3 linked regions of the Homo sapiens genome follow. The protein of the gene in region 1 purifies or fractionates together with the protein of each later gene. This does not show direct contact. Each region holds a gene or a part of one and is shown in the gene's direction. Other genes may lie near its edges.

Region 1 (3,735 bases):
ATTTCTTTAATTTAGGGAAGTTGTAGTGAAAGGTTAGGTTTTTGTGGGTTTTTTGTTGTTGTTGTTGTTAACACATCCCCTTTCTTCTAATAGGGCTAGAAGAACTAGTTTGGGACAACAGTCATTAGAATTCTATTAAAATTTCTTAATACACTAATCATTTATCCTCTTTTTAAAAAATTGACACATAATAATTACACATATTTGTGGAGTATAATGTGATGTTTCAATAGACATATACATTGTATAGTGATTAAATCAGGGCATTTGGCCTATTTATCACCTCATATGTTTATCATTTCTTTGTGATGAGAACATTCAAAAATCCTCTGTTCTAGTAATTTTGAAATATACACTATAATATTGTTAACTATAGTCTCCCTACTGTGTAATAGAACACCAGAATTTATTTCTCCTATCTAACTGTAACTTTGTACCCGTCGACCAATCTCTTGATGCTTACTTAACTCGGAACTATTCCTCTGGAGTAGAAATAAAGAACCTTCCAGGAATATTGACCTGTAGGGTCCTTAAAGGCAGTGCCTCGCTTTGCTTCTTGTGTCACTATCACCTACCCTGAAACCTGGCAAACTGAGATCATTAGAGACACCTTCATTTAATGCCAGTTAGAAAAATACAGAAACACAAGAGTTATATCTAGTAAAAGCAAGAGGAAGGGAACTGATATTTATTTGGAACTTAACCATGTCAGGAACAACATTATTGTATTTTCTATTGACAAGAGTCCTGTGAGGTAGCTATAATCTATTTTCAAGAAGAGGAAAACTAAAGCAATCAGTCAATCTTAGAAAGGTTAAAATCATAATAGAACAAAATTTGAACTCAGCTCTTCATGATTTCTCAGTTCATTTGCTTTTCAGTATAAGTTGCCCTTCTGTGTGGGGGTCTCTTATTTACACTTCCCTGTCTCTACCTCTTTATCTTCCTTTTAGTTTCTTCCTCTTTTTAAAAAGTGTCTTTCTCTTCTTAAAATGATGTATATTTAGAAATCTAGACATTAAGAGAGTGGATCCCACACATCGCTAGTGAAAATATAAATTGGTATAGTCTTTTGGGTAAAGATACATATATATATATATATATATATATATATATATATATATATATATATATACATATACATAAACACACATGTGTATATTGATGGTTCCTATAACTTTGTGGTGGAAAAACAAGAACTGAACACAAAGCTTATCAGTAGGTGAATGACCAAATGTCCTACATCCTTGATATTGAATATTATGCAGCCACTAGTGATTTCTAAGCTGTATTGTTAAGTGAGAAATTATATATGTACTTTATATAGGTACATATATAATGATTCCACTTTTTCAAAACAGTGACAGAATAACCCTATATGTGTTTTTATATGATTATAAAGCATGGATTTTTTAACAGTGTTCATGTGAGAGAGAGGTAGTAAGAGAAGTATTAAGATTGTGTTCCCATGTATTACAATGAGTCTGCACATGGGTACTCACAAAAGGATGCATGAAAGTATAGTCACCAGCTAGAAATCTAGTCAACATGAATCCCTCTCTCTCTCTCTCTCCCCACCTAATCAGTCTCAAAGTTCTGGTGATTTTCAAGAGTTTCTCACATATTTTTCCTACTTTCCATGTCTTCTACTATTGCTTTATTTGTCATTTTTGCTTCAGCTACTGAAACAGCCCCCTGACTAGCCCTCCTGCCTTGAGTCTTGTCCACCTCAAATCCACCAACGATTTACTTGCCAAAGTAGACCTATCCAGGGATATCTAACACGTAAACTCTCTACTTAAAACTCTTTGTTGATGCCTTCTTACCTGCACTACAAAAGCCAAACCCCTTAGGGTGATCTAAAAAGCCTGGCAAAACTAGGGCTTGACCACTTCTGTCATTCCCCACCTTCCGCATTTACTCTGACAACTGCAGACTGCCAGTGGTTGTCCGTCTAGGCCATGGGGACTATCCTCAGGTCTTTGCTTATGCTGTTACTCCTGTTTGAAATCCTCTTCACATCTTTCCCTTCAGCTCCCCACCTCTCTCCCTCCTTCATTTATCCTTTCAAACTGGTTTCTGGGGTCTCCCTGATCTCCCCTCAACCTCCAGCTAGGCTAAGCTGGGTGACTCTCCCGTATGGCTAAGCTGGGTGACTTTCCTGTATGGCTAAGCTGGGTGACTCTCCTGTATGCCTCTATCTTGTACTTACCCTGTGTACTGTCATGAATTCTTTCTCACTTTCTCTTCTTTACTAAGCAAGGGCGGGAACTGACATTCTCGTCATTATAATTCTGGTACTTACCATAGTTCCTGGCACTGTTTAGTTGCTCCACAATTGAATGCCAAGATGCTATCCCCTTGGCCACCACGTGCATGGATCTTTGAATCATAACCAAAAGTGATTTCACATTCAAACTTTAGAGATTGAAATGAATCATCTTCATATTTAGTAAGTGGAAAAGATGTTTCTTTTATATATCTCTAATACAAATAACTTACCAGGTTAAAAGGGTGAGATAATAAGGCTGATACACTTTATTCATTGTTTAAATTGATATATATATATATTTTTTAAATTGATACATATGTTTTTAAGTAATTAATGTGCAATCATGGTATTTACACTGTAGCAATTAAAATTAAGGTAGCTTTGTTACTAAATGATTATGGTGGGGATATAGTTATTTAGACTCTCAAGAGTAGAACTGCATAGTTATTTAAATATTGATTCTGTGGGTACAGATAGGTATTGTTGAAATAAGTGATATTTGGTTGATAATCTGCAATAAGTGAGGCTTAGTGCCTATGATGATGCCACACACTGGGAACCAACAAGTCCCAAAGAAATGTTAGTTTTGATATTTTCAGCTTGTTAGGCATTTTTAAAAATGACTCATATGTAGCTGAAAATTCTGTATTAATGACCAGCCACAGACCAGGGCAGTGGTTAGTTTGAGTTGAGTAATAGAATAGTATATTTTGGGGGCTAATTTTCAAAGTGTTTAGAAAGAGACATTTGACTTTTAAGTTAAGAGAACTGGAGTTGCTAATAAACACTGCAGAAAACAGAAATGTCTTCTATCTGATTTAATGATTACAACACAAATTATACTCTTTCAGGCCGGGATATTACAGCTCATGTTTCTGAAAAGACTCTCTACATGTTAATTTTTCCACTATTACTAGTTTCACTTTAAAGAATAGCAGTTTGAAAGGTAAACTGTTCATAACATTGAACAGGGTAGAGTTTAGGTTTGTTACCATGAGTATTTTTGCTCCTTAATGCTATTTCAATCATTTTAATAGCAGTAATTTTGTTTTTTTTTTCAGTGGCATACTTCCCAGTTAAAAATATTTTTTATAATCACGATGAATTATGTAATATGTGCTTTTTTTTTTCTACTACAATTTTTCATAAAAAGGAGTTTTATGGAAATTATAGACAGTAAAGTGATCATTACTATATTAACTGTGATTATAAATGGGTTGTTTTCAGGACAGATTTTAGTTCATGGTGAAGTGAATGTTTCTTTTTTGAAAACTTATGTAAAAGTCTGTTAAAGCTGGCTTTAGCTTTCATTTTAACCTGACAGCCATCCTAAATAATTTCTATGCAAATAATAGATTTTCATGTACAATTTCCAAATGGCATGCTTGTGTGGATATAATTGCATAATCAACTGCTAATGCAAATTATCATTCAGTGAAATTGTTTAAAGTGAGCAGTAACCA
Region 2 (3,500 bases), on another chromosome or scaffold:
TTTTTTCTTTTTTTGGTAGAGATGGGGTTTCGCCATGTTGCCCAAGCTGGTCTCAAACTTCTGAGTTCAGGCAGTCTGCCTGCCTCAGCCTCCTAAAGTGCTGGGATTACAGGCGTCGGCCACCACATTGGTACAATGAAATCGATTTTTGTTCCTAAATTCTAGCCTTGACCCAGGGGGATTTTCCCCTCATAGCCTAGGCAGTCATATATTGACTAGTTAATAATATTTTAGAAACAGTTAGTTTTACTAAAATTGTTATACAGTTTTGGAAATGGCATTTTAGGAGCTTCAATTTCTTTTTTTTTTTTTCCTCCCTATAGTTATGAGTTGCAGAAACGAATTGCTGAAATGGAAACTCAAAAGGAAAAAATTCATGAAGATACCAAAGAAATTAATGAGAAGAGCAATATACTATCAAATGAAATGAAAGCTAAGAATAAAGATGTAAAAGATACAGAAAAGTAATAATATTTTGGGAAGTACTAAAAGTATTTAGATAATTGTATTACATGTGTATTTATATATAAAGTTACTTCTAGCACATTGTGAGTGTAAGACATTTGCCAGCATATCAAGTGGTGGCCCCCTTAGTGAAAAAAAAAAACTTGCCTTGCATCCAGTTCCTTGTTACAGATGAAATTCCCTACTCTGAAGTCTTAGAACCGTGGGGATGCTACCCCCTAGTGGCGTAGCACAGTAACAAACAATAAGCATTTGGCTTCACAGTTTAATCTTTTAGTAGTCCACAAATCTGATAGAGGGATAGGATTTGGGTTTTTCTAGATAGATTTTTAAGGGTTTTATCATGTCCCTACTTGATGCCATTTTTCAATGACACTAGTATCTCTAATTATTTTTAAATAAAAAAATTTGTATAGTAAGTTTATTGTATAGTAACTTGTAAGTATATTCGTAAAAGGTAAAACCAAAATTTTACTCCTATGGTAAAATTTTTATATACCTAGACATTGTAGTCACTGGAAAATGTGTTATTTTCCCTCCAACTTAGAAAGGCAAAATAGCTGTCATAATCAAAAATACAGGTGCTTCTTCAACTATGGGGAGAGGGATCATCTTGGAATAAGGAGAGTTTTAGGATCCTGCCTTATTAAGAGCCTGGACATATTTATAGAGGAAGTGTTCCAGGTAGGAAATGTGGTTTTAAAATATGTGCACATTCAAAATAATGACTTACAATATACTTGCTTTGCTAGGAAACTGAATAAAATTACAAAATTTATTGAGGAGAATAAAGAAAAATTTACACAGCTAGATTTGGAAGATGTTCAAGTTAGAGAAAAGTTAAAACATGCCACGAGTAAAGCCAAAAAACTGGAGAAACAACTTCAAAAAGATAAAGAAAAGGTAGGTGTTAGAAAAAAATTCTTAAAATTTCACGTCTGAATATCATACCTAGTTTTCATGGATGTGTTTGCCCCTTATTGCCTAAGAGAATGAATTAGTATTCTAAATGTTGTTTTAAGGTTTGTCTCTGAACATGATTTTACCCCCTCAAGGGAAACCTTGCTTCTACTGACTTTATTTTGCAGGAGGTTTTTTGTTTGGTTTTGGAATTTTGCAGAGATGGGGTCTCAGTCTGTTGTCCAGGCTAGCGTGCAGTGGTATGATTATAGTCTTGAACTCCTGGGCTTAAGAAACCTACCTCAGCCTCCCAAAGTAACGTGGACTACAGGTGTGAGCCATTGCTCCTAGCTTGACTTTGAGTTTTAAAGTTTATATTACAATAATATGTTATTGGGAAAACATTTACCAAATCAGGAGTTCCATTTTGGTGTTAATTTTAATTTTCTTTTTCCTAAAGTAGTAGTTTTTAAAGATATTTAAGTTAGGTATTACAGACTTAAAAATATTGCCTGTCTTCTACAAAAACTAAGCTAACAGGATCAGAGCAGGATTTCCCAAGAATTACCAATGTTGGCCAGGCACAATGGCTTACACCTGTATTCCCAGTGCTTTGGGCGGCCAAAGTTGGAGAATTGCTTGATGCCAGGAGTTTAAGACCAGCCTGGGCAACATAGTAAGATCCCATCTCTACAGAAAATCCAAAATTAGCCAGGCTCAGTGGAACTTGCCTAAAAGTCCTAGCTAGTCAGGAGAGTGAGGCGGCAGGATGCCTTGAGTTCAAGATTCCAGTGAATAGTGATCAAGCCACTGCATCCAGCCTGGGTGACAAAGTGAGACTCTGTGTCTTAAAGAGAGATAGGAAAGCTCATAATTTGGAATCTCTTAAGCTGTGTTCATGTTCATAGCTCTGTCATATTTAAACAGATATGATACCTTAACCCCAGCCCCGCAAAAAAAAAGCTTTGTTCCATATGGTTACACAATAATTATAGATTAGGCTCTACTTTACGCTATAAGCATTTTCTAAATGTATTTGTTCACAAAATACTTTCTGCTTAGCACAGCTGATAAATACGTTGAGTCAGTGTTTAAGGAAGTGGCATTTTGGGAAATGTTGAACTTCACAGGTACTAGATAATCAGAGTAAACAAAATAACAAGGCTTTGGGGGTAACCCCAAAGACTTGACAGACTTAGCTAAGTGTAACTGTTACAGAGTGATTAGCCTTTAGGCATAGACTGCATGGATAAGTGATTATTATCAGAAGATGTTAATGGAGTAAAATATTAGCCCTACATGATGACTCTGGAAGAGTAAAGTTGTGAAAGATTTTAGGGTTGGGGAGATGGTAAAGATAATTTGTGGTAAGTTATGATATACCAGGAAGGATAGTTTAGAAAATTCCGTGTAGTCAGAGCATATTTATAGCTAAAGAAGAATAATTACAACCTGAAATCAGGAGAGAAGGATGACAGACCTGAGGCCCTGCCAGAGACAGTTTTCCTTCATAAGAGGTCAGGTGTTTGTAGAAGTAGTTTTACTATTAGATTGAGAGAATATAGAAATTACAGTGAATAGTCGGGAAAATACTTGTTAAAGCTAGCTAATTTAACTCTGATTATAAAGAAAAGAAGAACTAGAGGACCCTGAGAAATGCCTTTAAATATGTCAAATATTGATAGTATTGGGTAACATAAAGATGTATGCTCCTATAACTTGTTTTATAATCTCAGGTTGAAGAATTTAAAAGTATACCTGCCAAGAGTAACAATATCATTAATGAAACAACAACCAGAAACAATGCCCTCGAGAAGGAAAAAGAGAAAGAAGAAAAAAAATTAAAGGAAGTTATGGATAGCCTTAAACAGGAAACACAAGGGCTTCAGAAAGAAAAAGAAGTAAGTTTTTTTTTTTTATCAGTGTTTATTTTGGTGGCTTTTTTTTTTTTAACTTAAAGATTATTTTTTCAAAAATACTGAAACCTGAACTGGTAAGTTTGGACTTTTAATGTCCAACATTCCTAAAACTAGTCAACCTAGACTTAGATGACTATTCTTTTAATTCCTGCTGACATGTTTTTTAAAAAGTTTACTAAATGAGAGTTTGTAGTAGTAGCAGAAGGTGTGATGTCA
Region 3 (3,280 bases), on another chromosome or scaffold:
CTTCACTTGGGCAATGGTGAAGGTGGGAGGTTGATTGGGGCAAATCCAGGCACTCCCCATGTCAACAGCCAGACAGGGCTCCAGGGCTTGTCCCAGTCAATACAGAGTTCCCTCTGCTGTCTGGCCGTCTGCCAGGGAGCCAGAAGGAAGGGCCTTGCAGCCACAGAGACACTCCACTGCCCTGGGGCACACAGTGGACACTGCTCTTCCTACTTCCTCCTCTCCTGGATGCTCATCAGCTCCTTCTGCCTCCCCCCCTTTTTTTTCCATCTTTTGTTCCCCTAAATTAATGCTGCTTGGATTTTCATCTTATTTATAAAGATAAAATCACCTGGAAGTGTCAAGGAGTGGGGCGGGGTGGCGGGGGAGAAGCAGCCGTGCTGCCAGGTCACCCAGACCTCCAGACAGCCGGCTAGCCCCACTGCCCGTTCCTTTTACGCCCAAGTTTTGCTCCTTGAGAGCAGATTGGCTGATGCCCCTGCAACCCCAGCCCAAGCTCTGCCTCAAAGACCGAGTGACATAAGCCATTCCCACCCTCCTAGGTTCACATCCAGGGCTGTGTCTTCCTTGGGGGAGGAGATGGTGTCGTTTAGATCAGGGTAAGGCAGTCAGGCGGGTGTTCACCACTGCCTTTTCTTCCTCTGAGCGTGAGAACACTGAACCCAGCCACTGCCCCTGGGTCCCTGTCCTGGAAATGGTCTAATAAATCCTTTTCCCTTCTTGAGCTACCCAAGTGATCTCATCTTTCCTTGACTCTTAACTGAGACTCTGAAGGGCCACCCTTGCTTCCAATTAAAAGACCCTCTGGTTTTCTGTCTCCTCTCTTTTCTAAAGCAGAGCAGGAAACAGAACACTGCAGTTCTTAGGCCTGTTCTCCAGTCAGGTGTGCAAGGCCTCCTCCCCTTAAGGCCTCAGAAGTTTGGCTGGGGATGTTTGTGGGATCCAGACAGTTCTTGCCGTTGTTCGGCCTACAGATCAGAGACTGCAAAGTGGGAGCCCTGCGTACCAGACCCGTCCTGCAGCTGTGTTTGTTTGGTTTGGTCTGCCGCTAACATTTAAAAGTCGAGAGTTGCTGGGCGCGGTGGCTCACGCCTGTAATCCCAGCACTTTGGGCCGCTAACATTTAAAAGTCGAGAGTTGCTGGGCGCGGTGGCTCACGCCTGTAATCCCAGCACTTTGGGAGGCCGACGCGGGCGGATCACAAGGTCAGGAAATCGAGAACATCCTGGCTAACACAGTGAAACCCCGTCTCACTAAAAATAAAAAAATTAGCCGGGCGTGGTGGTGGGCGCCTGCAGTCCCAGCTACTTGGGAGGCTGAGGCAGGAGAATGGCGTGAACCCGGGGGACGGAGCTTGCAGTGAGCCGAGATCGCGCCACTGCACTCCAGCCTGGGCGACAGAGCAAGACTCTGTCTCAAAAAAAAAAAAAAAGTCGAGAGTTGACATAAAAATTCAGAATTCTGACTTCTAGAAGATTAAATTAGGTAATGTTGGGCCTGCGTCCTCATGGGGCAGCCTGTCAGCGGCCACTAAGTAGAGGCTGCTCTGTACAGAAGGGGTCCCCCATCCCCACTCATCTGTGTTGCCTGCCCAGATAGCCCCATGGCCATTTCAGTTTGCGACCCCCAACAGACCAAGGACCCAGAGCTGGCAGCCCTGGACCCACGTCCGGCAGGCAGTGAAGCTGCAGAGGCTGTCCCACGTTTACCCCATGCATATAAACAGACCAAAGTCAAAGCACATTCACACAGAAAGACCTGGCCTAGTAAATGAAGCTTATAGCCTGCAAAGGGCTTTGTTCCAACCTTCCCTCTCCAAAACCCAGTACTGCTCCTCTACCTTTCAAACCTGGTTGGGCCAGAACTGATTACATGGCCAACTCTTGGCTCACACTGGGCTTGCACTGGGCCATTTCTTTGCTCTGGTTCAGAGCCTCTGCAGAAGTGAGCTAACTTTGGATCAGTAGCTCCAACACTTGGCTCCAGTGCTGGCAGGTTACCCCTCAACCATAGCAGCTGGGATCTTTGTGGCTTGGGGGTGCTTGTGTAAGTTCTTGGTTATGTGCCCTCAGCCACCAGGATATGAACCGTGTCTGCAGAGCTTCACTTTAGTGAGCTTACAAGTTTTTAAATTTTTACTTCTAGTTACATTTACTTGAATCAGAACGTTGTTTCCTCATTCCTACTGCTTAAACACCTTGACAAGTCCTAGGGGTTAACAAAGGTTAGCATGGCTATGGTCCATCCCTGTGCTCTAGTTAGAGCGTGAAGACACCTGACTTTCCAGTTGTCTCTCTCCATGACCAGCAACAGGAACCACTGACGCTGAACTTTGGACAGTGGCCTCAGACTCTGGCTGCCAGCACACAACCTGCCATCATCGATGTTAAACATGCTGACATGTGCAGAGGAGTTTCCTCCCTGAAATGCTCTGAAATTCACTTCTCTGCCTGGGGATTCTGTTATAAACCTTCTGCCTACATTGGCTTTCACTGTGGAAGTTGATTTCTAAAACTCTGATGAGCTCACAACGTTGACATGTATATGCGTTTTTTGTGAGTGCTTCCTGCTCAAAGTGGGAGAGATTTTACTGGAAATGCAATAAAGTTTGCATTTTATTGCTACCGATGCCCACCACAAAAGCGTTAACCTCAGAAAGCTATAAGAAGCATCAAAAGATTGCCATAGCCCCCTGTAAGAGCTTCTGAACATTGTCCAAATGAAAGGAGGCTCAGCTGAATTCTAATTTTCCTAAAGACCCATGTTTTTAGCATCTATGAGCTTTCTACAAATCTCCCCATTGGCTGCATCTCTGACCTTGCACCAGTATCTGGTTGGGATTCCCTTTTTTTTTTTTTTTTTTTTTTTTTGAGACAGAGCCTTGGTCTGTCGCCCAGGCTGGAGTACAGTGGCGAGATCTCAGCCCACTGCAACCTCTGCCTCCCAGGTTTGAGCGATTCTCCCGCCTCAGCCTCCCAAGTAGCTGTGATTACAGGCGCCTACCAGCACACCCAGCTAATTTTCATATTTTTAGTAGAAACAGTGTTTCGCCATGTTGGCCAGGCTGGTCTTGAACTCCTGACCTCAGGTGATCTGCCTGCCTTGACCTCCCAAAGTGCTGGGATTACAGGCATGAGCCACCAAGCCTGGCCGGGATTCCTTTTCAAAGTCTGGCTGCACCTAGAGCCAGTTTGCTTCTGCTTGGCCTCATGGGGCCTCAGAGAAAGCCACAAAGGAGGATGGGTCTTTCCTGGGTTCATTTAACTGCCATTTATAACAC

What was found.
Region 2: the proteins of INTU (region 1) and SMC4 purify together in Homo sapiens (affinity purification with mass spectrometry; one large-scale study listed by BioGRID and IntAct). This does not show direct contact.
Region 3: the proteins of INTU (region 1) and VPS4A purify together in Homo sapiens (affinity purification with mass spectrometry; one large-scale study listed by BioGRID and IntAct). This does not show direct contact.

Annotation. Positions count from the first base shown.
Region 1 is NC_000004.12:127,639,457-127,643,191, forward strand, and holds part of INTU (protein inturned), read left to right. Parts: intron 1-3,735. UniProt on the Homo sapiens protein: Plays a key role in ciliogenesis and embryonic development.
Region 2 is NC_000003.12:160,413,150-160,416,649, forward strand, and holds part of SMC4 (structural maintenance of chromosomes protein 4), read left to right. Parts: intron 1-323; coding exon 324-464; intron 465-1,217; coding exon 1,218-1,368; intron 1,369-3,101; coding exon 3,102-3,266; intron 3,267-3,500. UniProt on the Homo sapiens protein: Central component of the condensin complex, a complex required for conversion of interphase chromatin into mitotic-like condense chromosomes.
Region 3 is NC_000016.10:69,324,316-69,327,595, forward strand, and holds the end of VPS4A (vacuolar protein sorting-associated protein 4A), read left to right. Parts: 3' UTR 1-2,624; downstream 2,625-3,280. UniProt on the Homo sapiens protein: Involved in late steps of the endosomal multivesicular bodies (MVB) pathway. Recognizes membrane-associated ESCRT-III assemblies and catalyzes their disassembly, possibly in combination with membrane fission.